Linked DNA regions of Homo sapiens. The protein of the gene in region 1 interacts with the protein of each later gene in a pairwise test. Each region holds a gene or a part of one and is shown in the gene's direction. Other genes may lie near its edges.

Region 1 (4,357 bases):
ATAAGTAGGTGATGTGTGTGATAAGGAATGAAAATTCACTGCTGTGGGTTTTTTTTTTTCCTACCTGTCTGTACTTTTTTTGTTTTTGCTTTTTTTTTTTGTTGTTTGAGACCAAGTCTCACTCTGTCACTTAGGCTGGAGTGCAGCGGCGTGATCTTGGCTCACTGCAACCTTTGCCTCCCAGGCTCAAGCAATTCTTGTGCTTCAGCCTTCTTTCTGAGTAGCTGGGATTACAGATGTGCACCACCACACCCAGGTAATTTTTTTTTTTTTTTTAAGACAGAGTCTTGCTCTGTTGCTCAGGCAGGAGTGCAGTGGCACTATCTTGGCTCACTGCGCCTGCACCTCCCAGGTTCAAGCAATTCTCCTGCCTCAGGCTGCCGAGTAGCTGGGACTACAGGCGCTCACCACCATGCCTGGCTAATTTTTGTATTTTTAGTAGAGAAAGGGGTTTGCCATGTTGGCCGGGCTGGTCTTGAACACCTCAGGTGATCTGCGTGCCTCGGCCCTCCAAAGTGCTGGGATTACAGGCGTGAGCCACCTCACCTGGCCTCAGATGAATTTAGAAACCACTATTTTTTTTTGAGATGGAGTCTTGCTCTGTTGCCCCGGCTGGAGTGCTGTGGTGTGATCTCAGCTCACTGCAAACTCTCCCGGGTTCAAGCAGTTCTCCTGCCTCACCTGGAACTACAGGCGCCACCACGTCTGACTGGGTTTTGTATTTTTAGTAGAGACGGGGTTTCACCACGTTGGCCATGCTGTTCTCAAACTCCTGACCCCAGGTGATCCACCTGCCATGGCCTCCCAAAGTGCTGGGATTATACGCATGAGCTACCCACGCCTAATCTTTATGTGACGTGTTTTTTTAAAAGTCCTAAACTTAGAGGTCATTGAATTTATTGGAGAAGGTTATTTTTGATTAATGGCGATTAGGCTAATTTTTTTCATGGTTTTAATAGAGATTTTTCGTTTTTTTAAACTTGATTTAGATGTATTGCTTTTGGAAATTGCAGAAATTAACAAACCGAGTTTTCCTAAGAAATATTTTTTCTTAATTTCTTAATTGAAAAGTTTTCTATGGCTTCCTTAATAGACAGTAGGACCTAGTTAATAGTTTAAAGAAGTTTCATAATTGTTATTAGAAATGTTAATTATGGGCCGGGTGTGGTGGCTCACACCTGTAATCCCAGTACTTTGGGAGGCCAAGGTGGTCAGATCACAAGGTCAGGAGTTTGAGACCATCCTGGCTAGCATGGTGAAACCCCATCTCTACTAAAACAATACAAAAATCAGCTGGGCGTGGTGACAGGTGCCTGTAGTCTCAGCTACTTAGCAGGCTGAGGCAGGAGAATGGCGTGAACGCGGGAGGCGGAGCTTGCAGTGAGCCGAGATCCCTCTACTGCACTCTACTGCACTCTGCCTGGGTGACAGAGTGAGACTCCGTCTCAAAAAAAAAAAAAAATAGCCAGGCATTGTGGGACACACCTGTAGTCCCAGGTACTCGGGAGGCTGATGCAGGAGAATCGCTGGAACCAGGGAGGTGGAGGTTGCAGTGAGCTGAGATTGTGCTGCTGCACTCCAGCCTGGGCAACAGAGTGAGACTCAAACTCAAAAAAAAAAAAAAGTTAATTTTGTAGTTAGAGAATATCTTCCTGCTCTACGCAAATTCCCTTCCAGCCTGAAATTATTTGTTTTTTTATTTTTTATTTAAAAAAAAATTTATTATTTTTGTGACAGGGTCTTGCTCCGTTACGTAGGCTGGAGGGCATTGGTGCGTTCACGTCTCACTAGCATCGACTGCCTGGGCTCAAGTGATTTTCCTGCCTCAGCCACTTCCAGTAGCTGGGACTACAGGTGCACACTGCCACACCCTACTGAGTTTTTATATTTCGTAGAGACAAGATTTTGCTGTGTTACTCAGCGTGGTCTTGAACTCCTGAGCTGAAGTGATCCCCCTGCCTCAGCCTGCCAAAGTGTTAGGATTACAGGCATGAGCTACTGTACCCAGCTGTGATTTCTTTTAAAGTGCTACTTTACAGCACTGTCACTTTTATTTTATCATTTTTAACTTTAAAGTTTTTTGTTTATTTTTATTTATTTTATTTTTTGAGATGAAGTTTCGCCCTTGTTGCCCAGGCTAGAGTGCAATGGAGTGGTCTCGGCTCACTGCAACCTCTGCCTTCCAGGTTCAAGTGATTCTCCTGCCTCAGCCTCCCAAGTAACTGGGATTACAGGCGCCCGCCACCACACCTGGCTAGTTTTTGTATTTTTTGTAGAGACAGGATTTCACCATGTTGTCCAGACTGGTCTTGAATTCCTGACCTCAGGTGATCCACCCGCCTCAGCCTCCCAAAGTGCTGGGATTACAGGCGTGAGCCACTGCGCCTGGCTTAAAATTTTTATTTTTTATATATTTTGTTTTTTTCTGAGACAGGGCCTTGCCCTGTCTCTTGTCCAAGTTGGAGTGCAGTGACATGACATGGCTCACAGCATCCTTGATCTCTTGCGCTCAAGTGATCCTGCCATTTCAGCCTCCTGCATAGCTGGGAGTACAGGCATGTGCCACCCCACTCAGCTAATTTTTTTTATCTTTTTGTAGAGATGGTGTCTTACTGTGTTGCCCAGGCTGGTCTCAAGCTCTTGGGCTCAAGTGATCCTTCTGCACATTTCCAAGGTTGTTTCACTCCTGTGTCTTTGCTGTCTAGAAGCTTTTCAGTGTGATGTAATCCCACTTGTCTGTTTCGGCTTTTGTTCCTTGTGCTTTTGGGGGTCATATCCAAACAAAGATTGCTGAGGGGCCAAATTTTAAATTGTGTATAATTTTAATGACTTCAGATTTAAATAGCTGCATTTGGCTTATGGAGTCTTTTGAGCAGCATGGTTTTAAAAAGGTTTTTGCCAAGTGGGGTTCTAATGGACACCTATGCTTGTAGAGCTCTGATGTGAGTGATCTGCTGTAGAAATTACTTCTTTTGATTTAGTATATTATTTTAAAATGCAGGTGATGCACTGGTTTCTTGGTGAGGGAAGCTGGTTTTTCCTGGCTGAGCTTCTGTAGGGTGGAGGGCTGGAGTCCAGGCTCTCGCTGGGCAGGGAAGGCAGCTTGAGTGTGCCTTCCAGTCCTCCTGAGGGCCCACATTTTTCTGGGATCACCTGTTTTCTGTAATGTGCATTGAACACACGGGCCAGGAGAAGAGGGAAGTAGAGGAGCTTTGTCCTCTGTGCTCATCCTCACAGTGCTGGGCGGGCCAGAAGGATTCAGGGCCAACCTTAGGGAGATGAAGGCCAGTTAAAATGTTTTATTGCCACAAATGGTGTCTTTTAAGAAATGAATCCATGTATTTTACACTTAAATGATATTAGGCTACTCCGGGCACACTGCCTATGGGGTAGCCCTGCTCTGCAAGGAGTAGTAAAAAAAAAAAAAAAAAAAAAGTTAAAGATACAACTTAGTTTCTCTGTGACTAGGGAAATCGTCCAAGTATGTATCAAATAATGCTAATTGGTACCTAGTTTTATATCTTGATTAGGCAACTTTTTGCTTAAAATTGTTTTGGAATGCATTAGTATTTCTACAGCTTCAGGCTGCTTTATCATCTAATACACAGTTGGATATTTAATATATAGTTTTATCAGTTTTTTTTAAACACTGTTTTTGAGAGGTCTGAGGAAAAAAAAGATAGTGTTACCAAAAATACTTCTATAGGGAAATACTGATAGAAATGTATAGGTAGCCTTGAAATTCTGAGGTTAATAAAAAAATTTGAATGCAGGTAACCTTTCATGGAGTTTGTCAAATTTTAAATTGTGTCTTACATCAGTGATGACTGAAGCAGTAAGGAGTGAGCTTGCAGCAAACAGTGGGGATTGTTGCAGCATCAGCACTTCAGCCAGCTCTGCAGGTTTCCTTGGAGACACGTGGATTTCTCTTTCTAGACCTTCAGCTATTTTCTTTTTTTTCTTGTTTTCTTGAGATGGAGTCTTGCTCTGTCGCCCAGGCTGCAGTGCAGTGGTGCGATCTCGGCGCACTGCAAGCTCCACCTCTCGGGTTCACACCGTTCTCCTGCCTCAGCCTGCCAAGTAGCTGAGACTACAGGCGCCCGCCACCACGCCCGGCTAATTTTTTCTATTTTTAGTAGAGACGGGGTTTCACCGTGTTAGCTAGGATGGTCTTGATCTCCTGACCTCGTGATTCGCCTGCCTCGGCCTCCCAAAGTGCTGGGATTACAGGCATGAGCCACCGCGCCCGGCCAGCTATTTTCATTTTGTTGTTTCTGTAATGCGTATTTGTATTTAATTTATATTCTAAATTTGTTAGTCTTACTGGCATTTGATGAAAACTAAAAAGGTAATTTTG
Region 2 (4,357 bases), on another chromosome or scaffold:
GGGCAAGGGGGATTGATAGGTGGAGCACACAAGAGATTTAAAATGGTGTAACAAGTCTGTGTGATACTGTAATGATGAATACTCACCATTACACACTTATCAAAACCTACAGCATCCCCAACGTTGAGTGATTCCTGATGTAAACTGTGGACTTGACCTAATAATGAGGTATCAATACAGGTCCATCAGTTGTTGCAAACATGCCATAATAATACAAAATATAAATAATAGGAGACACTGTGTGTGTGTGTGTGTGTGTGTGTGTGTGTGTCTGTGTGCGTGCATAGGGCAGGGCAGGAGGGCAGGAATTGGGGGGGGGGGCGTAGATATGTGAGAACTCTGTAACTTTGATGAAGTTTTCTCTCTGTATTTTTGGATTAGCAATGCTCTAAAAATGATGTCTATTAGTTTTTAAAAAGACACAAATGATTTGAAGAGAATATACCAATCAGGAAAAGGCATATAAAAAGATGACCAACGTCATTTGTCATTAGGAAGATGCAAACAAAAAACAAAGGAGATTCAAATACAGGCTTATTAGAATGGCTGAAATCTGAAAATCTAAAATACTAAATGGAAGAGGGGATATGCAACAAGAGGAATTCTCATTCCTTGCTAGTTGAGATGAAAAATGATGCAGCCAGACTTTTAAATCCATGTTTTGTGGACCTACTCATATGACAAATTGTGAAAGTTAAAACTATATGAACTGCAAACAGAGCATAGTTGCTAGAGTCTTTGGAGAAGTGCCTTGACTGACCTCAAAAGAGATGCACAGGGGACTTTTCGGGTGATGGAACTGGTCAGTGTGACACTTGGTTCGTAGATATGGAACTCCACGCATTTGCTAAAATACATATAATTTCACATAATAGTTAAATCTGATGAGTGTATTTTAAAAATTAATAAAAATTATAATAAAAATTAATGACATTAAATTAATAAAATGTTAAAAATAATTTTTTTAAAAGATCACGCACAGGCTGCTGAAAAGACAATGGATTTTTCTGGGACAAGGATAGGGAAAGAAGAAAACTAAGGGAGCCTTTGACATAGGTCAGGAGAGAGATTCTATTAACTTCACACACGGTAGTACTTAAAGTAGAAGGTTTTGGAATGGATTTTAGAGGATGACAGAACAACTGTTGCTGTCGGGACAGGAGAAGGGGGGAGTGCCGGCCCTGGAAGGAGTAAAACCTTGAGGAAGACTGAGGGGCCTTCCCACCTCATTTCAGACACGGGGCAGCTTCAGTTAAGCAGAGAAAGGAGCCCCGGGGCTGGCCAACAAGCAAGAAGGGAACTCTGTGGAAGGATAGCTATCTCCCAACACGGAGGGAAGGCCCAGGCGTCGCCCAGCCACTCCTTGCTGTCACCCCTGGACAAAACAGATGGAGAGGTGAAAACGGAGAGGTGGGCAGGGAGAGGTGGGCGAAGGGCAGGGAAGTGGACAGGAACAGGTGGGAGTGGGGAGGTAGGCAAGAAGGGGTGGGAGGGGGCAGGTTGGTAGGCCCGAAGGGGTGGGAGGAAGTTGGGAGGTGGGTAGGAAAAGGTGGGAGGGAGTGGGAAAGTGGGCAGGAAGGAGTGGGAGTGGTGGGAATATGGGCAATAAAAGGTGAAAGGGGGCAGTAGGTGAACAGGAAAGGGTGGGAAGGGGCGGGGAGGTGGGCATTAAGGAGAGGAAGGGGTCAGGGAGGAGGGTGGGAGGGGGTAGGGAGGTGGGCACAAAGGGGTCGGGGGGCGCTGAGGAGGGCAGGAAGAAGTGGAGTGCGGGGAAGTGGTCAGGAAAAGGTGGAAGGAGGCGGAGAGGTGGGGGGTGGTTTTTCCATGGAGAGGAGGCCCCACCCCACGCTGCCTCTGCTGTCAGCCCTGGTCAGCCTTGGCAGGGTTCGCGGATGTGCTTTCCCGACTTGCACTGTGGGAGTCTGAAGGACCTGAAGCATTTTGCGAGGAGTCTGGACTCAGGTCAGCAGAGGGAAGCGTCTTAGACCTGGCCAATCCTCAAGGTAAGGGCCCTAAGGGAGAACTGAGGGACTTCGCACCAAGGACAGAAGAAGCCCCGGTCTGCCCTGCGCTGCCATAGGACTTGCAGGCCACAGACAGGAAGATGGCCGCCGAGGGCTGACCGAGGCGTCCCCACAACAGAAGAAGGGAGGAGGTGCCAGCCCTCTAGGGAATAAATAGGAAGACATTGAGGAGGACTGGGGGAACCCCCACCTCAGAGGACAGCTTCCCAGAGATTCCCACCCTGCTCCTCATATCAGCCCTCGTAGAGCTCCTCAGTCAGCTCAGGCTGAGCGGCAGTCCTCTCATTGCTGGGGGAGGGGTGGAGGGGAGGGGGAGGGGTGGAGGGGAAGGGGAGGCCTTGGTCTGGGGGGTTCCATGACAAGTCAGCAGGGAGAGTTGCCTCCAGTTGGCAGAGGGAAGATTCCCAGGCCCTGCTGGTGATAAGAGTGAGGACGGAGAGGTCCCACGTGCATCAGAACAGACGTGAGGCCACCCCGACTGCCCCCGTGGTAGAGTGCTGGGAGGTGGCTGCCACCTCGCTACCTCCCGCTGCTCTCAGGGATGTGGAGTTTGCCCTGAGTTTTGGCCAGAAGAGTGGTAGGGACATGGCCCTGTCTGAGAAAAGGTGAGGATGCTAATTAAATTCTGATGGGACCATGCAGTCCAGAACTGTGGGGCTCTGGGAGTCTGGTCAGCCCCAGCTGTCAGCCTTGGGAGGCCCAAGACTCTGCTTGCAGTCTTTAGCCTGAGGGGCTCCCTCACTTCCTCTTGCAGGTGCTCCAGGAACCAGGAGTTGAAGACCTGGGTCTGAGGCACACTTCCTAAAGTCAGCACAGCAGAGGAGGCCCAGGCAATATCAGGAGTCAAGGTGAGTGCACGCCCTGACTGTGTACCAAGGGCCCTACCCCCACAAACAGAGCAGACCTGGCAGCACCTGGCCATAGCCACCTACTGCCATTCCTGGTGCCTCAGGCTCTGCCTGCCAGCTGTGCCCCGAGGTGCTTTCTCACATCCTCCTACAGGTTCTGAGGGAGCAAACCTCTTAGGAAGACAGGCGACCTGTGAGGCCCTAGAGCACCACCTTAAGAGAAGAAGAGCTGTAAGCCAGCCTTTGTCAGAACCATCATAGGTGAGTTTCTCAGCTGAAGCTACTCACACTGTCACTGTCTTCCTCAGGCCTGTGGGATCCCATCATCCCCATCCCTGCTCACACGTTTACCTGCTGCTCCTGAACAACAGGCCTCATGCCTCTCTTTCCAAACCTTCCACGCCTCAGCTTTGAGGAAGACTTCCAGAACCCGAGTGTGACAGAGGACTTGGTAGATGCACAGGATTCCATAGATGAGGAGGAGGAGGATGCCTCCTCCACTTCCTCTTCCTCTTTCCACTTTTTATTCCCCTCCTCCTCTTCCTTGTCCTCATCCTCACCCTTGTCCTCACCCTTACCCTCTACTCTCATTCTGGGTGTTCCAGAAGATGAGGATATGCCTGCTGCTGGGATGCCACCTCTTCCCCAGAGTCCTCCTGAGATTCCTCCCCAGGGTCCTCCCAAGATCTCTCCCCAGGGTCCTCCGCAGAGTCCTCCCCAGAGTCCTCTAGACTCCTGCTCATCCCCTCTTTTGTGGACCCGATTGGATGAGGAGTCCAGCAGTGAAGAGGAGGATACAGCTACTTGGCATGCCTTGCCAGAAAGTGAATCCTTGCCCAGGTATGCCCTGGATGAAAAGGTGGCTGAGTTGGTGCAGTTTCTTCTCCTCAAATATCAAACAAAAGAGCCTGTCACAAAGGCAGAGATGCTGACGACTGTCATCAAGAAGTATAAGGACTATTTTCCCATGATCTTCGGGAAAGCCCATGAGTTCATAGAGCTAATTTTTGGCATTGCCCTGACTGATATGGACCCCGACAACCACTCCTATTTCTTTGAAGACACATTAGACCTCACCTATGAGGGAAGCCTGATTGATGACCAGGGCATGCCCAAGAACTGTCTCCTGATTCTTATTCTCAGTATGATCTTCATAAAGGGCAGCTGTGTCCCCGAGGAGGTCATCTGGGAAGTGTTGAGTGCAATAGGGGTGTGTGCTGGGAGGGAGCACTTTATATATGGGGATCCCAGAAAGCTGCTCACTATACATTGGGTGCAGAGAAAGTACCTGGAGTACCGGGAGGTGCCCAACAGTGCTCCTCCACGTTATGAATTTTTGTGGGGTCCAAGAGCCCATTCAGAGGCCAGCAAGAGAAGTCTTAGAGTTTTTATCCAAGCTATCCAGTATCATCCCTAGTGCCTTTCCATCCTGGTACATGGATGCTTTGAAAGATATGGAAGACAGAGCCCAGGCCATAATTGACA
Region 3 (4,357 bases), on another chromosome or scaffold:
GGTGAAGACCAGCCACCACTGGGGCATGCTGCTGCGCCACGCACAGGCTGCTGTTAACGTTGCCCACCATGACGCCCTGCTGGTGGGGGGACATTTCCAGTTCTGCGTTGAGGAGCAGAGGTTCTAATGTATGCAGTGCAGCCTGCTCCGCCTAGGGCTCCCTCAGCCATGGACTGCCCCCTACCAGACAGGCCCTCACTTGGGAGACTTGAGAACAGAGTCGGGGATCACACTGTCCTGGGTTTCAATCCTGGCCCCTCCATCTATTTGCCAGGTGACCAGGGCCACTGAGTATAGCTGGGCAGGTTGTGAGCTATATAAGGCACTCACTCAGCCAAGAGGGAACATGGGGGCTGAAGTCCAGCCCATGCCCACCAACCGCCAGGTCAGGCTCCCTGACCCAGGCTACATCCATCTGGAGGGTGGATTATCAGAAAGGCATCGTATGGGCCAGCAGCGCCCTGCAGGCAGCCGGCTCTCTCATCTGTAAAATGGGCATCGGTGTGCAGTGTGAGGCGTGGGTCTGGCGAGTGCTGTAGTTGTTATCACAGCCTCTCCTGGGAAGCCCTCCTGGATCTGCTGTCAGAGTCCCACAGGACCTTGCCCTGATGCCTCTCTGCTTCTGGGGATCAGGGGCTGGCATCTCCAAGCCCAAGCTTAGGTCCCTGAGGTGCCTGGGGCAAGCCAGCGCAGCCCCCCCCACCTCAGTCAGCAGGACCTGCAGATCCTAGGTGAGGCCCAGGGTGGAGCAGGCTGGGAGGGCAGGTTTGGAAGTCAGTGCAGGTGAGGTCCCCATCGAGTGGGGCCTTCTGGGGCCCACACTGAGTGCTTAAAGCTCACACAGCTTGTTCCCAGCCCCTCTCCACTGGTCCAGGACAGACCTTGCCCCTGGGCACTCAGGATCACCTGGAGGCAGCCCTGAGAGTCCCTCTATTGCTGTGAGTGGGACCCCCAGGACAGGGGCCAAGACTGACCCTAGATGGGGGAGGCAGGGCAGGAAAGGCCTCAAAGGTGGCACTCAGTAAACAAGGGTGAGGGAGGAGGGGCAGCCCCAGCAGCGGAGCCGCAGGTGCAGAGGCCTGGGGTAGGGCAGCACCTAGAGAGATGGGACCTGGCCAGGCAGGGCAGAGGGGCTGGGGAAGGGGAGGCAAGGTGAGTGCTGGGAGGGCTGCCTGGCATGACCCAAGAGGAGAGCAGGTTTTATTCTAAGTGCAGTGGAGCTGGGATGGGTGAGGGCCATCTGGCCACCCAGGACTGGGGCCTCTGGCGACAGGTCTGGAACATGGTTTGTCCAGCATGTCAAAGTGGCTACGGCCTTGGGAAAATGAGTGGATTGAAACTATCCCCTGGCTGCAGTGTGGCAGCTGGGGACTGTGAGGAAGCTGGTGCTGCCCTCTGGGTAACTTGTGGGCAGCTGGGAGAGGAGGGATGGGGATGCTGCCAACGCCTTCAAGACCTCTGTGCCCCCTCCCCTGGCTCCTGTCTGCTCAGGCTGGTCCCAGAGTCCCGACCCTGCCATCTCTTCGCAGGTCGAACTCTCCCATCCCCCCCACGCAGGAGGACACCGACAGCGATGGGGAGGTGAATGGCCCAGTGCTGGGCTGGAATTCGGAAGTCGCCCCTCTCTTTCCCTGCCCCCACCCCTGCCCCTCTGGCTCTGTCCCTGTCCAGTCCCTGCCAAAACCTGTGGGTTGCAGGAACCACAGCTGTACTTCACGGAGCCCCAGCAGCTCCTGGATGTCTTCCGAGAGCTGGAGGAGCAGAACCTGTCGCTGATCCAGAACAGCCAGGAGACGGAGAAGACCCTGGAGGAGCTGAGCCACACCCTGAAACACACCCAGATCCGCATGTAGGTGCTATGCGGTGGCCAGTGGGGGCTCCCTGCCGCTCTCATCCTGGGATCCCCCTAGCACTGGGAGCCAAGTTGGGGAAACAGCCCACACCCGTCCGTGGCCCTGGCCTGGTCCAGGTTGTCTGAAAAGCTCCGAGCGAAGCTCCGTTTGTGGGCCGGATCCTGGAGAGAGGGTGGTGGAGCTGGGGGTGGGCAGGGCCCAGGCACCCGTGCCCACCCTGAAGCAGCCCATGGCTAGAGCCAGGCCTCTCCAAGGACCTTCTGCCCTAGGCGCCTTCTGCTGCTGCCAAGCTCCTGGGAGGCCCTTGGAGTGGCTGGAGGTCCACAGCGACCCTGACCCCCCAGTTCATAGCAGCACTAACATGCTTCACACAGGCACCGAAAGCAGTCATTTGCTCAGAAGGGCCTGGAAGCTGCTGCTGCTTCATATTTCGTAGACCACTGAGCGGGTGTTCGCGGCACAGAACTGGGGAAGGCCAAGCCACCTGTGGGCTGCTGTGAAGTGTGTCCCCTGCTGTTGTTCAGCAGCATAACGGGGACGGGAGTGGGTGCAGCCCTGAGCACGAGGACATGGGCATGGCGAGTTGTGCCATCCTGCAGGCTGGGGCTAGGTGGGGCTGAGACGGGCAGGGATGGGTGAGGGCCATCTGGCCACCCAGGACTGGGGCCTCTGGGGACAGGCCTAAAACACAGCTTGTCCAGCATGGCAAAGTGGCTAGGGCCTTGGGAAAATCCTGCCCTCCCAGTTCCAGCCAGAGAGGCAGCAGGAGAAGTCAGGTGGCTGCCCAGCTCTCACCTGGAGCCCAATTGAGGCTATTATGGTCCCTCCTGCTGGGTGTGGCCACTCAGTCCCCTGCAGGGTACCTGCCTCCAGGAGAACTGGGCAGGGCAGGGTCAGCCTGAGGCACTGGTGAGGCATGTCCAGAGCAGGGAATCCTCTGCTCACTCCCCACACACTGCCTGTGCATCCGTTCTGGGTCAGGCCTGGGTCTAAGCTCTGCAAGGATAAAGCAAGGCCCTGCCCTCATGCAGCTGACCTTAATGGCAGCAGATACAACAAACAGATCCACAGATGTGACTTGTGCATACTGATGTGTTCTAGGAGGAAAATAAAGCAATTTGAGAAAGAGGGCTAAAATGGAGGGTGACAGCAGATGGGAGGGGTAGAGAAGGCTTCCAGGAGGTGTCAGGAAACTTCCTGAGGAGTGGGAGGAAAGCCATCCACACAGGCTGGGCGAAGAGGGTCCCAGGCAGCGGGAACAGCAGGTGCAAAGGCACTGAGGTGGGAGCCCACTGAGGCTTAAGTGTCCCATGGGGGAACCATGCTCCTGAGCACCCATGTCCCGTTGGTGCAGTATGGCAAAGAGTCCCCATAATGACCTGAAATCCCCAGCCTCAGGCAAGACTATGTGCCCTGGAAAGCTGGGAGGTGACAGACACAGAGGAAGATGAGCTGGGGAGAGGTGGACAGGCTCCAGCTTTCCAGATAATTGGGCAAGAAGACAGGTTCCTCCTCCAACACATGCATGCAAACGTAAACCTCATAGCAGAATGCTGGATGTGACATCCCAAAGCTGGTCTTCAGCCAGCCAAGCCATCCCTGAGAGCACCCATACTTTGTTTCCAGGGGAGTCACAGCCCATGTGTATTTAACTTCCATGAACTCAGCCATCTTTTCTCAGAAAAAAAATCAAAATATAGTCTTAAAAATATATAAAACAAATAGACAATCATAATAGGCCTATTCCATTAAACAAATTAAATAAATAATAGCCTTCCAAAAGGGAAAGCCCCAGGCTCAGATGGGTTTGCTGGTGAATTCTACAAAGGAAGAATTTCATCTAAGGAAGAAATTATACCAATTCTCTACAATCACTTTTCAGAAGATAGGAGCAGAGGGAGTACTTCCTAACCCATTCTATGAAGCCAGTATGACCCTAATACCAAAACTAGACAAAGGCATTACAAGAAAGGAAAAGTAGACACCAATATCCTCAACATAGATGCAAAAATCCTCAACAAAATATTAGCAAATTGAATCCAACAGTATAGGAAAAGAAGTATATACCACAACCAAATGGGATTTATCCTAGGTATGCAGGGCTGGTTCAACATTCAAAACTTAACATAATCTGTCATATCCACATGTTAAATAAGAAAAGTCACATGATATGATCATAAGAAATAGCACTGAACACAATCCAACATCCACTCATAATAAAAGCTTTCAGAAAATGTGGAATAGAAGGGAATTTCCTCAATTTTGATAAAGAACACAAAAATCCTACAGCTAACATCTTACCTAATGAAACAAAAAAAACAACAACTAGAAGCTTTCTCATGAGATCAGAAATAAGGCAAAGAGGTCTTCTCTCACTACTACTTTTCAATATTGTATTGGAAGTCTTAGCTAATGTAATAAGACAAGAAAAATAAAATGTATATAGATTGGAAGAAATAAAACTGTCCTTGTTCACAGATGACATGAATGTCTATGTAGAAAAT
Region 4 (4,357 bases), on another chromosome or scaffold:
CAAGGCCCAGCTGTGTGTTCTCTTCCTGAGCTGTGGGATTTACCCAAAAAGACTTTGGGACAAGGCCATCTGTGGCATTGCTCTGCCCCACAAACCCAGATTCTTAGGGCAGCAGCATCTCTGACATCTCCCAGCCAGGTCAGTGCCAAGATGGACTATATCCAGCCCAAAGGTTACAGATAGCATCAACCCAAGTGGCCACTTGACCTTGTTCGTGGCCAAATTTCGACACCAAGATATCCTTCATCTTTGTCAGTGAGCTCCTGGCTTCCTCTCTGTCCAGGGCACCCTGGGGAGAACACTGGGCCCATCCATCAGACCCTCCCCTGCAGGGATGGGGCATGAGAGTGGACCTCCCCATCACCAAGGCCTCCCAGCACGTGGGGAGCCTGCTCCTCACTTGACTCCCCTTCCTGGGAACCTCGAACCCCTCCCTGCTCCACTGCCTACAGTGGGAGCGCTCTTCTTGAACACATTTGATCCTTCACGACAACTTGGCACAGTCAGCCAATCTGCAGTCTCTGTAACCACCTGTTTTTCCTCCCTGGCTTTTCACATTGCTTTCTTTCCTTTACTCTCTCTTCTCATTCTCTCTGAAAGCTCGCCTTCTTTCACCAAGAAACTCTAGGTTTGTCAGTGGGCACTTCCTGGCTCTCTCCAATATATACCACAGGACCCTACATGGCCAACTGCCAGATGCAGATGGCTCCAGCCTGGGGCAAGCTGCGGCCGGCCTGCCCAGGTGGCATGCATGCTGTGGTCAGTGGTGTGGCAGGGCCTCACTTCCGCCCAGGACTACTTTAGTGATAGTGATTTTTAGTGACAGTACAGGCAAAGTATCCAGGTTAGGTATCAGCAGAGCTTTTTGAGAGGATTATATGAACTAAGCTACATAAAGGCACTTTACAGGCTTAAAAGCATTTTACAAAATAAATACTAGCTTCAACTGCATGTTTACTTAGGCCAGACATGTTACAGGTGTCATCAGATTAATATCACCATTATCTTCATCTTACAGATGATGAAAATGAGAGACAAAATGGTTAAGCAGTTATAGAGCTAGTGAATTATACAGTCAGAAAGTAAGCCAAGAATGAACCCAGGTGGCCTGGCTCCAAAACCAGCAAGCCTAACCATGACACTGTAGCTGCCTCCCAGGTTAAGGTGATAGACTTCCTTTAAATGTTATTAGAACTCACCATCTCCTGACTCTTAAAACTGCCCTTCTTTTGTGGGGTCCTCTCGGAGGGTTTAATCTGGGGGCAAGCTTGCCCTCTGTGCTGGAGACTAAGACTGGCTGCCTTTCCACCCTTTGAGTCACTGCCATGCCCTCCGCCGCCCCAGGTGCACCAGACCTGGTGATGAACGCCCAGCTAGTGCAGGAGACGGCCTACTTGGAGGACCGCCCGCTCAGCCAGCTGTATTGTGCCCACGAGGAGAACTGCCTCTCCAAGTCTGCGGATCACATGGACTGGCCCTACGGATACCGCCGCCTATTGCGCTTCTCCACACAGATCTACAATCTGGGCCGGACTGACTTTCGTCCAAAGACTGGACGCGATAGCTGGGTTTGGCACCAGTGCCACAGGTTAGAGCCTGCCCATGCATTGGCACTAGAGGGTTAGGAACAAAAAGCAGGGTCCAGGGAGCAGTTTGGCCCTTCCCTGGCCACAGGCAAGTTTTCCTGGGAGGGGTGTGCGCTCTCCTTGCTGGCCTTGCCTGCAGGAGGCAGTGAGGACAGCGGCATCCACCTGCCCCTCCATCGCTCTCGCCTTCACTATGTCAATGGTGCCCGTGGGGTCTGTTTCCCACAGCAACATCCCATAGAGGCGTCACCGCCAGCAGAGTTGTTCTGTTAGAATGGTATTTGACACTTTTCCTATGTTGGATCATAGGCCTTGTCTTCAGAAGCCAGGTAAAGTGGGGACTCCCAGGAACCTGGGGGCCCAAAATAGACATCCCATCCAGGGTGCTGGCTCTGCAGGAAAAGCTCGCTGATTCCTTCAGTAGTAAGGCAAGGCCCTCAAAGAACAGCATGAACAGACTGCCACTAAAAAAGTGACAATGAACATTCTTTCCTATCAGGAGCTTCCAGACCAGAGAGAGGGAGAGACAATGCCTGTGACAAAGGCAGAATTGTTTTTTCTTCTTCAGAACATAGCCACGGGTGGAGAAAGTGGAAAGGAATGGGCAATGACTTTGGGACTTGGTCTCGCCTGAGATAATAAGCACCTTTCCCTGTAGCATGAACAGAGCTGTCATTATAACTGGATTGGAAACAATGGTAGCAATTTGGTCCCAGGCTTACAGGGACCCTCTTCCCAGCAGGTCAGCTCCTAGGCTGCTCACAGACCCGGTGCCCCGCCTCTCCCCCCAGTTCAGGCCTTGCTGTCAGGCACCAGCCTCCTGGAGGCGACCAGAGCAGGGCTTCTACCTCTTGCCTGGGTTGAGACCCTAGGTGGTGGGGGCAGCTGTACTTGCTGCCTGGCAGGGGTGCCAGCAAAGGAGGCTGTGCGTCACACTAATCTCGGGTTTGGGAGGGAGAAGGGCACTGCCTACTATAACTTTCCTCTCGGGTCATGATGGGGCCTGGGGCCTGTCTTCCCTACCAGCCCCTCCAGAGAGGACCCTCTCCTGTTGCTGCCGCACTGACAGCTCTACCCCTTCTGCAGGCATTACCACAGCATTGAGGTCTTCACCCACTACGACCTCCTCACTCTCAATGGCTCCAAGGTGGCTGAGGGGCACAAGGCCAGCTTCTGTCTGGAGGACACAAACTGCCCCACAGGTATGTGGTTTCCTGTCAGCACCTATCAGCATCTCCTTTTGTTATGTTCTTCAGCCCCTTTGGGATCAGGCTTTCTCTCTGCCCTGTTCAGCAGCCCAGGGCACCTGGAGACCCTGGCTTGAAAAGTTAGCATTCAAGGCAATTTCTTACCTTCTGAAATCTTACGCAGGAGGTTTTTACTTCCTCTGAATTCCCCACGCATTGTTCTTCTTTTAAAACACTCAGCACTTTCCATCTTGGAGAAGAGTTGCAGACCTGTCCTATCTCTGCTGAGCTCTCCGAGGGCAAGCATTGCCTGCTTCCTGTCTGCACACCCACAGTCCCTAACCCTTAGGAACTGCATGGTAAACACTGAATCTTTAGAGGTTTGGAAGGATGGATAGGCGGATGCACAAGTAAATTAGCACGGGAGCGTTGGAATCTCCCAACCACAGTTCCTAGTTCAACAGGGATTTGCACTGGAGCAGTCAAACAAATCCTATCTTTGTCACAATGTGGTTTGCTATGGTGCTGGATTCACAGCAGGATTCTAGCTCTGACGGTCCTTAATCTGTGAACTGGGCATGATGACACTGAACTGGTAAAGGAAATAAAAGACCTAGCAGAGTGCTTCGTCCTGCCTCAAAACCTGTCTGTCCCCTTCCTTACAGGACTGCAGCGGCGCTACGCATGTGCCAACTTTGGAGAACAGGGAGTGACTGTAGGCTGCTGGGACACCTACCGGCATGACATTGATTGCCAGTGGGTGGATATCACAGATGTGGGCCCCGGGAATTATATCTTCCAGGTAAGGCGGCTGGGGGATTCCCCACAGAGCCTGATTTCCTCCAGATGTTCCACAACTTTCCCTGAGGGCAAATGAAGGGAAGAATTTCCCATACAGGGTTTCCGACAGGCCTGTCACTTAAAGGAGCTGTCCTGTTAGGGAAGTAACAGTCAAGCTGGGTCCAATGAACCTGTGTTTGAGTATTGATTCAGTGAACACTGGATAAATCAGTTTCTCAGTTGGGACTTCTCAGTCCCTATCTGTAAAATGGGAACATCAGTACCTACCTCCTGGGTAATTGTTAAGAATTAATGAAGCAAATAGAAACACATGTAAGGATTATCACAGCCACAGTCAACTCATTCAGAAACCAAATCACCCATTTTCAGTTGTCCCCTCTTTCACTCTAGGTGATTGTGAACCCCCACTATGAAGTGGCAGAGTCAGATTTCTCCAACAATATGCTGCAGTGCCGCTGCAAGTATGATGGGCACCGGGTCTGGCTGCACAACTGCCACACAGGTAACTCCGAGCCACTGTGGAATCAGCCATCTATAGGCTCAGGGAGCTGGAACACTGTAAATGTACCCTCTGCTCCCACACTCCAGCGTGTGACTTGTATGTGTGTGGTGTGCAAAAGGCTATGGATGGAACAGAGATGCATTTCCTTTGACATCTTACAAGGCAGACTTCTAGAACTGGTCAGACCATCGGCTTCACCCAATAACTACATCTTCTACATCCCTGTTTGCACTTAAGGCTGTTTGATTGTAAACTCAGTTTCCAATCTGTTCTAGAATCTT
Region 5 (4,357 bases), on another chromosome or scaffold:
TGGAAATATGTTTTATAATAGAAAAATATGGTAGACATTGTTGTGAAATGATTTTTGTTAAATACACCTCCCCTCTTTTTTCATTACAGACAGAGAGTGCATGGGCTGAAGAATACTCTGAAAAGAAGAAAGGGTCTCACAAGCGCTCAGCATCTTGGGGCAGTACAGATCAACTTAAGGAGGTCAGAAAAATGGTTCTAAGATAGTGGGTGTGGAAATATGATCCTTTTGTTGGCTATTTCCTTGATATTATGGGCAGCAAGGATTTGTCGTTTTCCATTGATTTCTTTTTTCTTTTTGGCTTCTGAAATAACAAAAACAATTATTGTGTTGATTTAATAAAGATTTCAATAGGGATATTTATATATCACTTACCTGATTATGTATGTTTGTCTTTTTTTAGGAGAATTCATACCTGTCTATTAACATCAGATTTAAAAATTGTAACAATACAACAAATTCACATTTATTCTTTTTTTTTTTTTTTTGGGGTGTGCATGTGTGTGTGTGAGACGGAGTCTCGCTCTGTTGCCCAGGCTGGAGTGCAGTGGTGCGATCTTGGCTCACTGCAGGCTCTGCCTCCCAGGCTCAAGCAATTCTCGTGCCTCAGCCTCCCAAGTACCTGGGACTGCAGGTGTATGCCATCATGGCCAGCTAATTTTTGTATTTTCAGTAGAGATGGGGTTTCATCATGTTGTCCAGGCTGGTCTCTAACTCCTGACCTCAAGCAGTCTGCCTGCCTTGGCCTCCCAAAGTGCTGGGATTACAGGCATGAGCCACCGCACCTGGCCACATTTATTATTTTTCTATATATGGTGGTGTTTCTGAAATGCAGTACTCACTATAACCATGATGGTTATGGCTCCATGCTATGATTACCATTTTCTGTGCTGCTAATTAGTGACATTTTCATTTCACACATAATGTAGAAATGCAAAAACTCGGTCAAAGAATAAATAAGATATTCATTGGAATTGCATTCGTTATTTAAAGATGATATCTGTGAATATATTTCATGACTTGAGTTGATTTTTAAATACTGTGTAATTTTTGGAACTGTTGAAAGCTAGGTGTTCAATAAATCTAAATTGAAATAAAAATTAACTTATGGTAAAGGCAATGAGAATGATTGTTATTTTTTTAATTCTTCGTGAAAACTGTAATGTAATTTATTCTAAGTGCTGAAAACTATTTGTGTAGTACTTGGGAAGCTCGAAGGCTGAGAACAATGTTGGAACATATACACATACATGCATGTGTAGATGTGTATAAAATTATGAACAAAAAATGAGACTTTGTGATATGGTTCAAAAATTCAAAGGACTTATTAAGGGTAAGTTTTACTGGTTCTTATTAAGCAAGGATGTGTTTTTGTTTCATGTAGAAAACACTCTGGTGTACTTGCTATTTTTGCTTTCTCAGATTGCAAAATTACGCCAGCAGTTGCAGAGAAGTAAACACAGCAGTCGGCATCATCGAGATAAAGAAAGACAGTCTCCATTTCATGGCAACCATGCAGCTATTAACCAGTGTCAGGTAAGAGTACCAATACCACAAAATCCAGAAAAGGAATTTGTTGTTTTTCTGGTGATTTGTTATTTCATTGGTAATTGTTTAGGACAAAAATGCTCAAAAACATATTTGAAACAGTGATTTAAATACTGAATCACAGTCTTTATAAGAAAACAGAATATTAAGTTGACAAAATGATATTTTCCTTTAGTGACCTAAGATACGACTTCTAGGAGACATAGCTACTTATCTATTTTGGTTTACCATATTTTTGGCTTTATCAGTTCAATATTTTGGAGGCAGAATGACACAGAGAATTAAGCATTGGGTATGGAACAGGCCCTGGCTGAATAACTTATCTTTTCTAAGTCTCAGTTTCCTCATGTGAAGATGGGAATAATAATACCTGTCTCGGGCGGGGAACATCACACACCAGGGCCTGTTGTGGGCTGGGGCGATGGGAGAGGGATAGCATTAGAAGAAATACCTAATGTAAATGATGAGTTAATGGGTACAGCAAACCAAAACGGCACATGGGTATGTATGTAACAAACCTGCATGTTGTGCACATGTACCCTAGAATTTAAAGTATAATTTAAAAAAATGTAAAAAAAAAAATAGCTGTCTCATAGAAGTCTTTTGATAGAGACAAACCTTTATCTGCTTTGATTTTTTAGTAGAACCCATGAACTGCTCTTGATGGCTCATCCATCCAAAGAACACTTTTTTTTACTGAATTGAAATTGGATGAGATCTCTTGGCAAGGAGAAAGCAAGTTCATTTCAGGTCTTTTCAGGATCTTTCAAGTTCCAGAATTGAAGCTTTGGGAATGAGGAAGGCTGGATTGAATTTTCCATGTTAACAGTAAGGCAGCAGGGCCTGGAAGGTAGAGGGAAACTAGAAGACTTAGTTCTGTGACTCTCAGGTTGTTTTATAATACTGGAGTTGGCAAACTGTGGCCCGGGAGCCAAGAATGTCCCACCATGTGTTTCTGTAAATAAGGTTTTATTAGAAAACAGTCACTCTCATTTTTTATGTATTGTCTATTGCTCCTTTTTGTGCCACAAAAATATACATTTGACTCTCTATATCTTCAGGTTTTGCATTTATGGATTCAACCAACCATGGATCAAACATATTTTTGGAAAAATAGAATAGAATATGTATAAATATAAATATATTTTAAAATATAATTAAAAGTACAAATAAAAATACAGTATGACAACTATTTACATAGTATTTACATTGTATTAGGTATTATAAGTAATCTGGAGATTATTTAAAATATACAGGAGGATGTTCCTAAATCATAATGCACTTACCATGCCATTTTATATAAGGGACTTGAGTATCTGTGGATTTTGGTATTTGGAGGGGGGTCCTGTCCTGGAACCAGTCTTCTGAAATTGAGTAGTTGAAACAGAGACTGTCTGGTTCACGAAGCCTAAAATACTTACTGTTTGGCCCTTTACAGATAAGGCAGGCCAACCCCTTTTATAGTTTGGTAGTGTCTGATGTTTGTTAAATGTATAGATTGTTTGCAATGGAAAGTATGGGTAAAGGTATAGACTTTTTCAAACTGATTTTGCCCCAAAATATTAATACTCGGGTCAGATTTGATTTCACAGGTTTATAGAGATTGTTTTTTGTTTGTTTTGAGACAGGGTCTTGCTCTGTCACCCAGGCTGGAGTGCAGCAGGGTGATCACAGATTCACTATAGCCTCGACTTCCTGGGTTTATGTGATCCTCCCACCTCAGCCTGCTGAGTAGATGAGACTACATATGTGCACCACCATGCCTGGCTAATATTTTTTATTTTTTATTTTTATTTTTGTAGAGATGGGGTCTGTGTTGCCCAAGCTGGTCACTAACTCCTGGCTTTGAGTGATTCTCCCACCTTAGCCTCTCAAAGTGTTGGAATTACAGGCATGAGCCACTATGTCCAGCCAAATTTATAGTTCGATTATAATTTCCAGTAACTTTTTTCTATATTTGATATTTTAATTAAAAACATGGTTATACATTAGTATTCGTGTATATTCTGTACAAACTAGATTTATTTCTGGAGAAATAGAAATTTTAAATTGACAAAATAAGAAATGAAAAATTTGTAAAGACTAATAACTTTTGAATTTGGAATGTTAATTAAAAACCCAGTCTCACTCTCAAGAGGCTGAAGACCCAGATGATTTTACAGATGAATTTGCCAACCTTCCCCTTCCTCTCATTCATTCATAAATAAATGGTATGTGTTTCTAAAAAATAAGGCCACTTTTTACTCCCAGTCCATATTTTTACTCCAAGTAGAATAGGGATTAGGATGGAATTTTATTGAATTAAGTGGCTAGTTTTAGGACTTCAGAAGTTTCTGAAGTGATTATTTTTTAAACTTGTGTTAAAACCAACAATTTTAAAGTGGTTATTCAAATTTTCATTTTTTTCTTCTTGCAAGTTGAATTTACTTAATAAAGATTATTGGAATTTACTTGAAATTTATATTTAATTTAAAAACATTTCCTTGCAGAGAGGGTAAGGACAAGAAAATAGAGAAACTTGAAAAATAGTTCATCTAGTTTGAGTTTTGTACACTTGACACATCAAGCGTCTTAACTGTTTCTCCCATTTTATTTAGTGTTATCAGCCAACCGCAAGTCAGGCACATGTGCATCATGATAGTAATGACAGTAGTACTCATGTTTAATTGAAACTCACGCTGGCCGGGCACGGTGGCTCACGCCTGTAATCCCAGCATTTTGGAAGGCTAAGGTGGGTGGATCACCTGAGGTCAGGAGTTCGAGACTAGCCTGGCCAACATGGCGAAACCACATCTCTACTAAAAATACA
Region 6 (3,277 bases), on another chromosome or scaffold:
TGAATACCAGCTACTTGCAGCACAATAACTCAGAATGAAAAAGCAATTCTGAGAAAACTATATGTGACATGATACTTTTCTTATAAAAGTCAAGAACAACTAAAACTGAACAGCTGTTTAGGCATTGACATATGTGACAAAACTTTTAAAAAGTAATAAAGTTCAAGATAGTGGTTACCTCTGGAGAGGTAGAGGAGGAGCAAATCTATGAGTAAGTCACTGGTAATGTTTTAGTCCCTGGGTTAGGTGGTGGGTTTTGGGGTGGTTCATTTGTCATTAAAAGTAAGTACATGAGCTGGGTGTAGTGGTGCGTGCTTATAGTCCCAGCTACTTGGGAGTCTGAGATAGGAAGATCCTTGAGGCCAGTTCAAGGCTATAGTGTGCTATGATTTCACCTGTGAATAGCTACTATATTCCAACCTGGGCAACGTAGACCTTGCCCCCCTTTAAAAAAATTCAAAAACAAAATAAATGCATGGACAAATGAATAAGAGAGTTATGCATGGAACATCGGTGGTGTATTATGAATCAAGCATTATTACTAGCTCAGTTATATGTGCCTTCATTCCAAAACAAAAAATAAAAGGTAAGAAAATTGTTGAATTGCATTTGAGAGAGAGGAAAGGAAAGAATTCAGGTCTGAATCTTAGGCTTTTGGCTTGAGCTATTGCAGTTTATTGAGATGGGGAAATACATGGTGGGGAAAGTTTGGGTATGTGCATAACAGAGACAGAAATTCAGTGTTTGACAGATCAAGTGTGAGGTGCCCACTGAGCATCAAAGTGGATATGTTAAGCAGGTATTGGATGTACAAATCTAAATTCAGTAAGGTCAGTCCAGGAGAAAATTTGGGGAGTAGTTAGCCATGGGATCAGATGGGCGCTTTAGGGACACTTTGGAGATGAAGTACAGCACTGAGCCCTGAGTTCCTGTGACAGAGAAGCAGCCTGCAAAGACGAAAGGAGGAGCTGTTAGGAAGAGCAAGGCAACAGAAAAGGAAGAACCAGCATGCTGATTATGTTCAGGAGAGTGTTTCTACGCTGAATTTAATTGCCAAGATTACCAATTCTAAAGAAGAGGAGGACTCTTGGACAAGTTTTTAGAAGTTGGTTTGGAGCTGGGGTGAGAGCCTGGCCTAATGGAGACAGCTCTGGATTGGGAGTCACTTAGACCTACATTCTGGTCTAGGTTTGGCTCCCAAAAACTGGGAAGGTTAGTTAGGTGGCCACTCCTCTCTCTTCATGGTCTCTCTCAGCTTGAAGACAATTTACAGTCTTTGACTAAGCATCCACACTGGAAGAACAAGATTTGGTTTCTGAACATTGGGTCTTAGTCCTTAAAATAACTTGCAACCTGTTACGTCTTCACTTACTCCCATCGCCACCACAAGAATCCTGTGTGTTTTTGTTTTGTGCATCCAGTCTAAAACGGGTCTGCTTTTATTCATAGGCTTTTGTTTTCAGTGGTTTTTGTTGTTGCATTTTTCCCTAGATAAAATGTTTTTTCTATAAGACACTGCTTAAAAGAGTCCAATGCAGTATGAATTTGTATTTGTGTTTAACTTTTGTGCTTAACAGATCTGCCATGGCTGAACTCTCAGTTGCTTAAGCAAAATTCTGGGGCTTATTCTAGGTTCCTTTATTTGTCATTGTCACTCCCATTCCAGTTATCAGCAAATTCCATCAGCTGTCTCCGAGACATCTTAAATCTGTCTACCTCCCTCCATGTCCACTGCTACCACTCTGCCCAAGCTATTATCATCTTTCACCTGAACTCCTGCACTAATGTCTGCTGTCCTTGCATCCACTCCTGCCCTCCTACAATCACTGACGGCAGCCGCAGGGATCTTTATAAAACGAAAATCAGATAATGTCACTTCCCTGCTTAAAGCCCTTTGAGTGGCTTCCCATTGCACTTAGAAAAAAAAAAAAAAAAAAAAACTGGCCAGGTGCGATGGCTCATGCCTGTAATCCCAGCACTTTGGGAGGCCGAGGCGGGCGGATCCCCTGAGGTTGGTAGTTCGAGACCTGCTTGGCCAACATGGAGAAACCCTGTCTCTACTAAAAACACAAAATTAGTCAGGTGTGATGGCGCATGCCTGTAATCCCAGCTACTTGGGAGGCTGAGTCAGGAGAAACGCTCGAACCCAGGAGGCAGAGGTTGTGGTGAGTTGACATCACGCCATTGCACTCCAGCCTGGGCAACAAGAGTGAAACTCCGTCTGAAAAAAAAAAAAAAAAACCCAAACTCAATAGAAAATCAAGTTTTCATAGTGGTAGTTGTTAACAGAGAAATAACAATGAAAGCTTTAAAAAACTCCATGAAAATTTGCAAAACTTAAAAAAAAAATGTAGAAGAGGACTAAACTTGATAAAATATTAAAAGAATTGAAACCCTTCCTAAAGGCAGCTTCTCAAGGGAGCACAAGTTCACACACAGTTTACTTTTGGAGGAACGTCTGAGGTCATGAGGACTAGATTCTAGAGCTACAGGTCTCAGGGACAGTCTCGAGGGATACAGGGCCCCCATCACCACATCCCCAGATTTAACCGCAGCAGCTCAGCTTTTATCTGTATCTGTTGGAGCTCTCTAGGAAATGTCAATACCAAAGCAAACCCAAATCACAACTAGATTAGATTACTATTCAAGAGAATGATTCTCTACCGAAACTCTGCAAAATGGGGATATCAAGAGAGTTGGAAAATGTAAGACGTAAAGACCATAATCAGGAAAATACGCATCATATTTGTTATTCACTGAGAGGGAGGAATTTCCACTTAAATCCTATTTCCAGCAGCTGGATTGTGCTCTCAGTGGAGTGCTCTGGATTCTGATTAATAGAGATTTTCTAGTCCTCCCAGCAACTTCCTTCTCAATTCTCTTCACTTTCCGCAGATCTCGGCACCAGGGTTGCATCTTGTGGGCTCCATTGTGTTTTCACACAATGTGCTATTTGTCCTTCACAGTGTTTTGGTTTATTTTTCTGTTTGTCCATCTTGTTTTTGAACAATTGCCAGCATTTAAAAATGAGGAAATCTAAAATCTGCATTTCAAGCTGCTCTTTTTTAAAATGTGCCGTTTCGACAACACTGAGCCCACAGTCTTGAATGACAACACTTGGGTGGAGCTGAGTGACTCCACCTGTCGGGTGGCTACACCCTTGCTCAGGGTATGCACTCCATGGTTTGCTCTATGGCCCACCATCCTGGATTGTCTCCCTGACACCAAGGCTAAGGGACCCACTTTACTCACTTATCTGCTGGGCCTTGGAAGTATT
Region 7 (4,357 bases), on another chromosome or scaffold:
GATCTCACTGTTTTGCCCAGGCTAGTCCTGAACTCCTGGGCTCAAGTGATCCTCCTGCCTTGACTTCCCAAAATACTGGGATTATAGACGTGAGCCACCACTCCCAGCCAAATGTATGTTTTATTTATTGAATAATAAATAGTGGAGTTATTTATTTATGTGTGTGATATGTGGTTTTTTTAATTATTAATTTTTTAGAAAAATAGAAGCAGGGTTTCGCCATGTTGCCTAGGGTGGTCTTGAACTCCTGAGCTCGAGCAGAGTGCCTACTTCAGCCTCTCAAAGTGCTGGGATTACAGGTGTGAGTCACTGCACCAGGCCTGAGTTATTTGTTTTTACCTCATGAAACAACAACTAACATTTTAGATTTTTTTTTCCACTTGTGAAGCATGAAAAAGTTTACTTAAATTGGATCTTACAAGGATTCATGTAACCAACAGGATTTCCTCCCTCAGCGTCAACTCACATGAAAAGAGGGGTGGACGTTTGTGCAAATTATACTGGTTATGATATTGTGAAATGTAGTTTCCTGGAAAAGTCATTATTGATACCCATTTTTGGCATCTTAATTCAAATTCAGCCATCAGGCTTTATTTTAAATGATTTACACAGCAATCTCTAGATTCTTCTTGCTACAAGTATTTTAAAAATTTTGTTGTGGAGTTCTTCGGCATGCCAGTTAGAGTTATACCTGTAGCATTGGATAAGCACTGTAAAGAGCCAAAATTAGAGGTAATACCCTTGCTCTTCCCTACTTTAATCATGTAATATAGGTCTTGTGACTTGGAAGAAGATTGTCTTATTACCATTACATTTGAACTTTTGTTTTAAAATTAATCTGTTAGATCATATATTCACCAAAGCTCATCTTTTCACTAGCCAGAGAAAGCTGTATTTCAAAATAACCTAAAGTAAAATAGTATTTAATTCAAGAAGTTAGTTTTTATTATATCAGGTGGCCTCTTGGTTGGTTATAGTTTCGTGCATTCTGATGCCTGCGGGCTTTTTATCCTTCCTGTCTCCACTGCATAGCTGGGGAAAACCTAGGGATTGCCCGGTGAATGCCAACAGAGCTTTAACCTGTGTGTCCATGGCTTGCCTTCCCTGAAGCCTCAAAGAGAACAGCTGCGAGTGCAAAAACCTTATGAGCAAAATTTCTGCTCCAGGAACACTTATCTGGGCTGAGGAAACATATTCTAAGAATATCTGTTTTGTAACTAAAGCTTCCATGTACTTGTGTAACGCTTTGTGTAAAACCACGTACTTTGTATAGCCTTTGCTGGAGAGTTTCCATTTTCCTCCAGCTCTTCAGTGTAAGTGAAAAAATGTGCCCAGAATGTCTCTATAGATTATTCTGCCTTCCCTCACCTTTTAGTTTTTTCCATGGAAAGCTGACAGGTCAGAATAGGCATATTTTATTAGAAACTCGAAGTGGTGGGGGGTAGAAGTACACATCTTTGCCTCTTTTTTCCTTCTTGATTACAGAAGTAATAATGCTCCAAAGATGTTTTTTAATAAAACTGAGTCTCGCTCTGTTGCCCAGGCTGGAGTGCAGTGGCGTGATCTCAGCTCACTGCAAGCTCCACTACTCCTGGGTTCACGCCATTCTCCCGCCTCAGCCTCCGGAGTGGCTGGGACTACAGGCACCCGCCACCGCGCCCGGCTAATTTTTTGTATTTTTATTAGAGACGGGATTTCACCGTGTTAGCCAGGATGGTCTCGATCTCCTTACCTTGTGATCCGCCCGCCTCGGCCTCCCAAAGTGTTGGGATTACAGGCGTGAGCCACCGCTCCCAGCCGCTCCAAAGATTTTTTAAAAAGATAAATAAATTTTAACTTGAGGAAAACATGGTTATTCAAAAATTCGTGTTTTTTCTTTTTCTTTAAAAAAAATTTTTTTTAGAGACAGCTTGTCGCACTATCACCCAGGTTGCCATGCAGTGGCAAGATTATAGCTCCGTGCAGCCTCAAACTCCTGGACTCAAGCAATCCTCCCACTTCAGCCTCCCTAGTAGCTGGGACTGCAGGTATGCAGTCTAATTTTTTTTTTTTAACTTTTTGCAGAGATAGGGCCTCCCTGTGTTGCCCCAGCTGGTCTAGAACTCCTGGCCTCCTCCAGGAGCGATCCTCCAGCCTTGGCCTCCCAAAGCACAATACGTGTATTTTTCAGAGGGAATTCTCAACTTTCATCAGATTTTTCAAGGAATATGTTACTCAAAAAAGGACAACAACCACAGCATCAGTTTGACTTGGTTGGTTATTGCATGTCCTTCCTAAATCTCTCTTATAAGCAGCTATGGCTTTATAAGGATTCCTATGTAAAAGCATCATTTTTAGTAGTATTTTATTTAAAACAAAAATAATTTAATAGATTATGAAGGAAAGTCATAGTGAGTCAAAGAACAAATCTGAACAAATCTTCCTCAAGTATTTTATTTATTTATTTATTTATTTATTTATTTATTTATTTTTGAGACAGAGTCTCACTCTGTTGCCCAGGCTGGAGTGCAGTGGCACGATCTTGGCTCACTGCAGCCTCCACCTCCCGGGTTCAAGTGATTCTCGCCTCAGCCTCCCGAGTAGCTGGGATTACAGGCACCCGCCGCCAAGCCTGGCTAATTTTTGTATTTTCAGTAGAGACGGGGTTTCATCATGTTGGCCAGGCTGGTCTTGAACTCCTGACCTCCTGACCTTTTGTCAAGTGTTCAGACAAAAACGTGCACAAATGTTTATAACAGCATTATTCACAGGAGTCAAAAAGTAGAAACAGCCCAAATGTCCATCAACTGATGAATAGATAAATAAAAGGTGGTATATCTGTACAGTGGAAGATTCTTTGGCAATAAAAAGAAATGAAGTATCAGTATATAGTACAACATGGATACCCCTTGAAAACATGCTGAGTGAAAGAAGCTAATTGCAATAGACCGCATATTGTATAATTCCATTTACGTGAAATGTCCAGAATATGTAAATCTATAGAGACAGAAAGTACATGAGTGGTTTGAGTGATTGCCTGGGGCTGTGGTGGGGGTGCAGGAGAATGGGAAATCACTGCTAGTGGGTATGTAGGGCAGGGGGGATCTTTTCGGGGTGATAAGATGTTCTAGAATTGATTGTGTACAATTTGTGAATACTAAAAGCTATTGAATTGTGCATTTTAAGTGGGTGAATTGTATGGTATATGAATTATATGTCGATAAAGGTGTCATGAAACTCAACTAGAAAAAATACAAGTTTATCATAGAAAATATGTAAAATACAGAGAAGTGGAAGAGGAAAAAAGTAATTAGCATTTTTAAAAATTCCCTATTTTTATTTCAATGATAAAAAATAATATAAGCTTATTCAAGAACAATACTGACACTTTAAAACAACATTCTCATATAAGATTTCAGTGCTCTCTGGGCGCGGTGGCTCGCGCCTGTAACGCCTGTAATCCCAGCACTTTGGGAGGCCGAGGCGAGCAGATCACTTGAGGTCAGGAATTCAAGACCAGCCTGGCCAACATGGTGAAACCGTGTCCCTACTAAAAATGCAAAAATTAGCCAGGCATGGTGGCGGGCGCCTGTAATCCCAGATACTCTGGAGGCTGAGGCAGGAGAATTGGTTGAACCCGGGAGGTGGAGCTTGCAGTGAGCCGAAATGGCGCCATTGCACTCCAGCCTGGGCGACAGAGCCAGACTCCGTCTCAAAAAAAAAAAAAAAAAAAGAAACAAAGATTTCTCAGTAATTGGTGGTGGGAGAGTTGGATCCTCACGTGCCTATGATAACCGTGCAGTCACAGTGTATACCGTATTCCACTAGTGAACAAAACTTTAATTTTTACAGAGCAGCATCGTGTTCAGTGACTATTATTTTAACTTTATTGATTTTTTTTGCATGTCATAATTCGTAAATTTGTTTTGGTTTAATTGTGTTAGAGTTAGAAGCACATAAAAATTATGTTTTTACATCCTTTTTTTTTTTTCTGAGATGGAGTCTCACTCTGTCACCCAGGCTGGAGTGCAGTGGTATGATCTCCACTCACTGGAACCTCTGCCTCCCAGGTTCAAGTGACTCTCCTGCCTCAGCCTCTTTAGTAGCTGGGACCGCAGGCATGTTACCACGCGCGGCACATTTTTGTATTTTTAATAGAGACGGGATTTTTCCATATTGGCCAGGTTGGTCTCTAACTCCTGACCTCAGGTGATCCACCCCCCTCAGCCTTCCAAAGTGCTGGGGTTACAGGCGTGAGCCACCGCACCCAGCCACAAATTATATTTCTTAATTCTTTTTATCCTATTACCCCTTCCCTTGGCTACCACCCCCTACCCTCCACCCACATCCACAGTGCTTTAAGATAAAGGAGATTAAT

Evidence for each region.
Region 2: the proteins of DNAJB6 (region 1) and MAGEC3 interact in binary tests that used the Homo sapiens proteins (3 or more experiments, as listed by UniProt).
Region 3: the proteins of DNAJB6 (region 1) and CFAP100 interact in binary tests that used the Homo sapiens proteins (3 or more experiments, as listed by UniProt).
Region 4: the proteins of DNAJB6 (region 1) and LOXL4 interact in binary tests that used the Homo sapiens proteins (3 or more experiments, as listed by UniProt).
Region 5: the proteins of DNAJB6 (region 1) and FAM117B interact in binary tests that used the Homo sapiens proteins (3 or more experiments, as listed by UniProt).
Region 6: the proteins of DNAJB6 (region 1) and RAB3IP interact in binary tests that used the Homo sapiens proteins (3 or more experiments, as listed by UniProt).
Region 7: the proteins of DNAJB6 (region 1) and CNST interact in binary tests that used the Homo sapiens proteins (3 or more experiments, as listed by UniProt).

The regions. Positions count from the first base shown.
Region 1 is NC_000007.14:157,342,903-157,347,259, forward strand, and holds part of DNAJB6 (dnaJ homolog subfamily B member 6), read left to right. Parts: intron 1-4,357. UniProt on the Homo sapiens protein: Has a stimulatory effect on the ATPase activity of HSP70 in a dose-dependent and time-dependent manner and hence acts as a co-chaperone of HSP70. Plays an indispensable role in the organization of KRT8/KRT18 filaments.
Region 2 is NC_000023.11:141,893,405-141,897,761, forward strand, and holds part of MAGEC3 (melanoma-associated antigen C3), read left to right. Parts: intron 1-1,261; exon of another isoform or gene 1,262-1,410; intron 1,411-1,864; coding exon 1,865-2,003; intron 2,004-2,080; coding exon 2,081-2,155; intron 2,156-2,778; exon of another isoform or gene 2,779-2,872; intron 2,873-3,026; exon of another isoform or gene 3,027-3,103; intron 3,104-3,180; exon of another isoform or gene 3,181-3,248; coding exon of another isoform or gene 3,249-3,477; coding exon 3,478-4,082; coding exon of another isoform or gene 4,083-4,224; coding exon 4,225-4,357.
Region 3 is NC_000003.12:126,421,796-126,426,152, forward strand, and holds part of CFAP100 (cilia- and flagella-associated protein 100), read left to right. Parts: coding exon of another isoform or gene 1-57; exon of another isoform or gene 58-1,055; intron 1,056-1,529; coding exon 1,530-1,581; coding exon of another isoform or gene 1,582-1,697; coding exon 1,698-1,849; intron 1,850-4,357. UniProt on the Homo sapiens protein: May play a role in ciliary/flagellar motility by regulating the assembly and the activity of axonemal inner dynein arm.
Region 4 is NC_000010.11:98,250,784-98,255,140, reverse strand, and holds part of LOXL4 (lysyl oxidase homolog 4 precursor), read left to right. Parts: intron 1-1,344; coding exon 1,345-1,588; intron 1,589-2,672; coding exon 2,673-2,788; intron 2,789-3,438; coding exon 3,439-3,575; intron 3,576-3,964; coding exon 3,965-4,076; intron 4,077-4,357. UniProt on the Homo sapiens protein: Catalyzes the oxidative deamination of lysine and hydroxylysine residues in collagen and elastin, resulting in the formation of covalent cross-linkages, and the stabilization of collagen and elastin fibers.
Region 5 is NC_000002.12:202,724,828-202,729,184, forward strand, and holds part of FAM117B (protein FAM117B), read left to right. Parts: intron 1-89; coding exon 90-182; intron 183-1,422; coding exon 1,423-1,536; intron 1,537-4,357.
Region 6 is NC_000012.12:69,818,635-69,821,911, forward strand, and holds part of RAB3IP (rab-3A-interacting protein isoform alpha 1), read left to right. Parts: 3' UTR 1-3,277. UniProt on the Homo sapiens protein: Guanine nucleotide exchange factor (GEF) which may activate RAB8A and RAB8B. Promotes the exchange of GDP to GTP, converting inactive GDP-bound Rab proteins into their active GTP-bound form.
Region 7 is NC_000001.11:246,572,542-246,576,898, forward strand, and holds part of CNST (consortin), read left to right. Parts: intron 1-4,357. UniProt on the Homo sapiens protein: Required for targeting of connexins to the plasma membrane.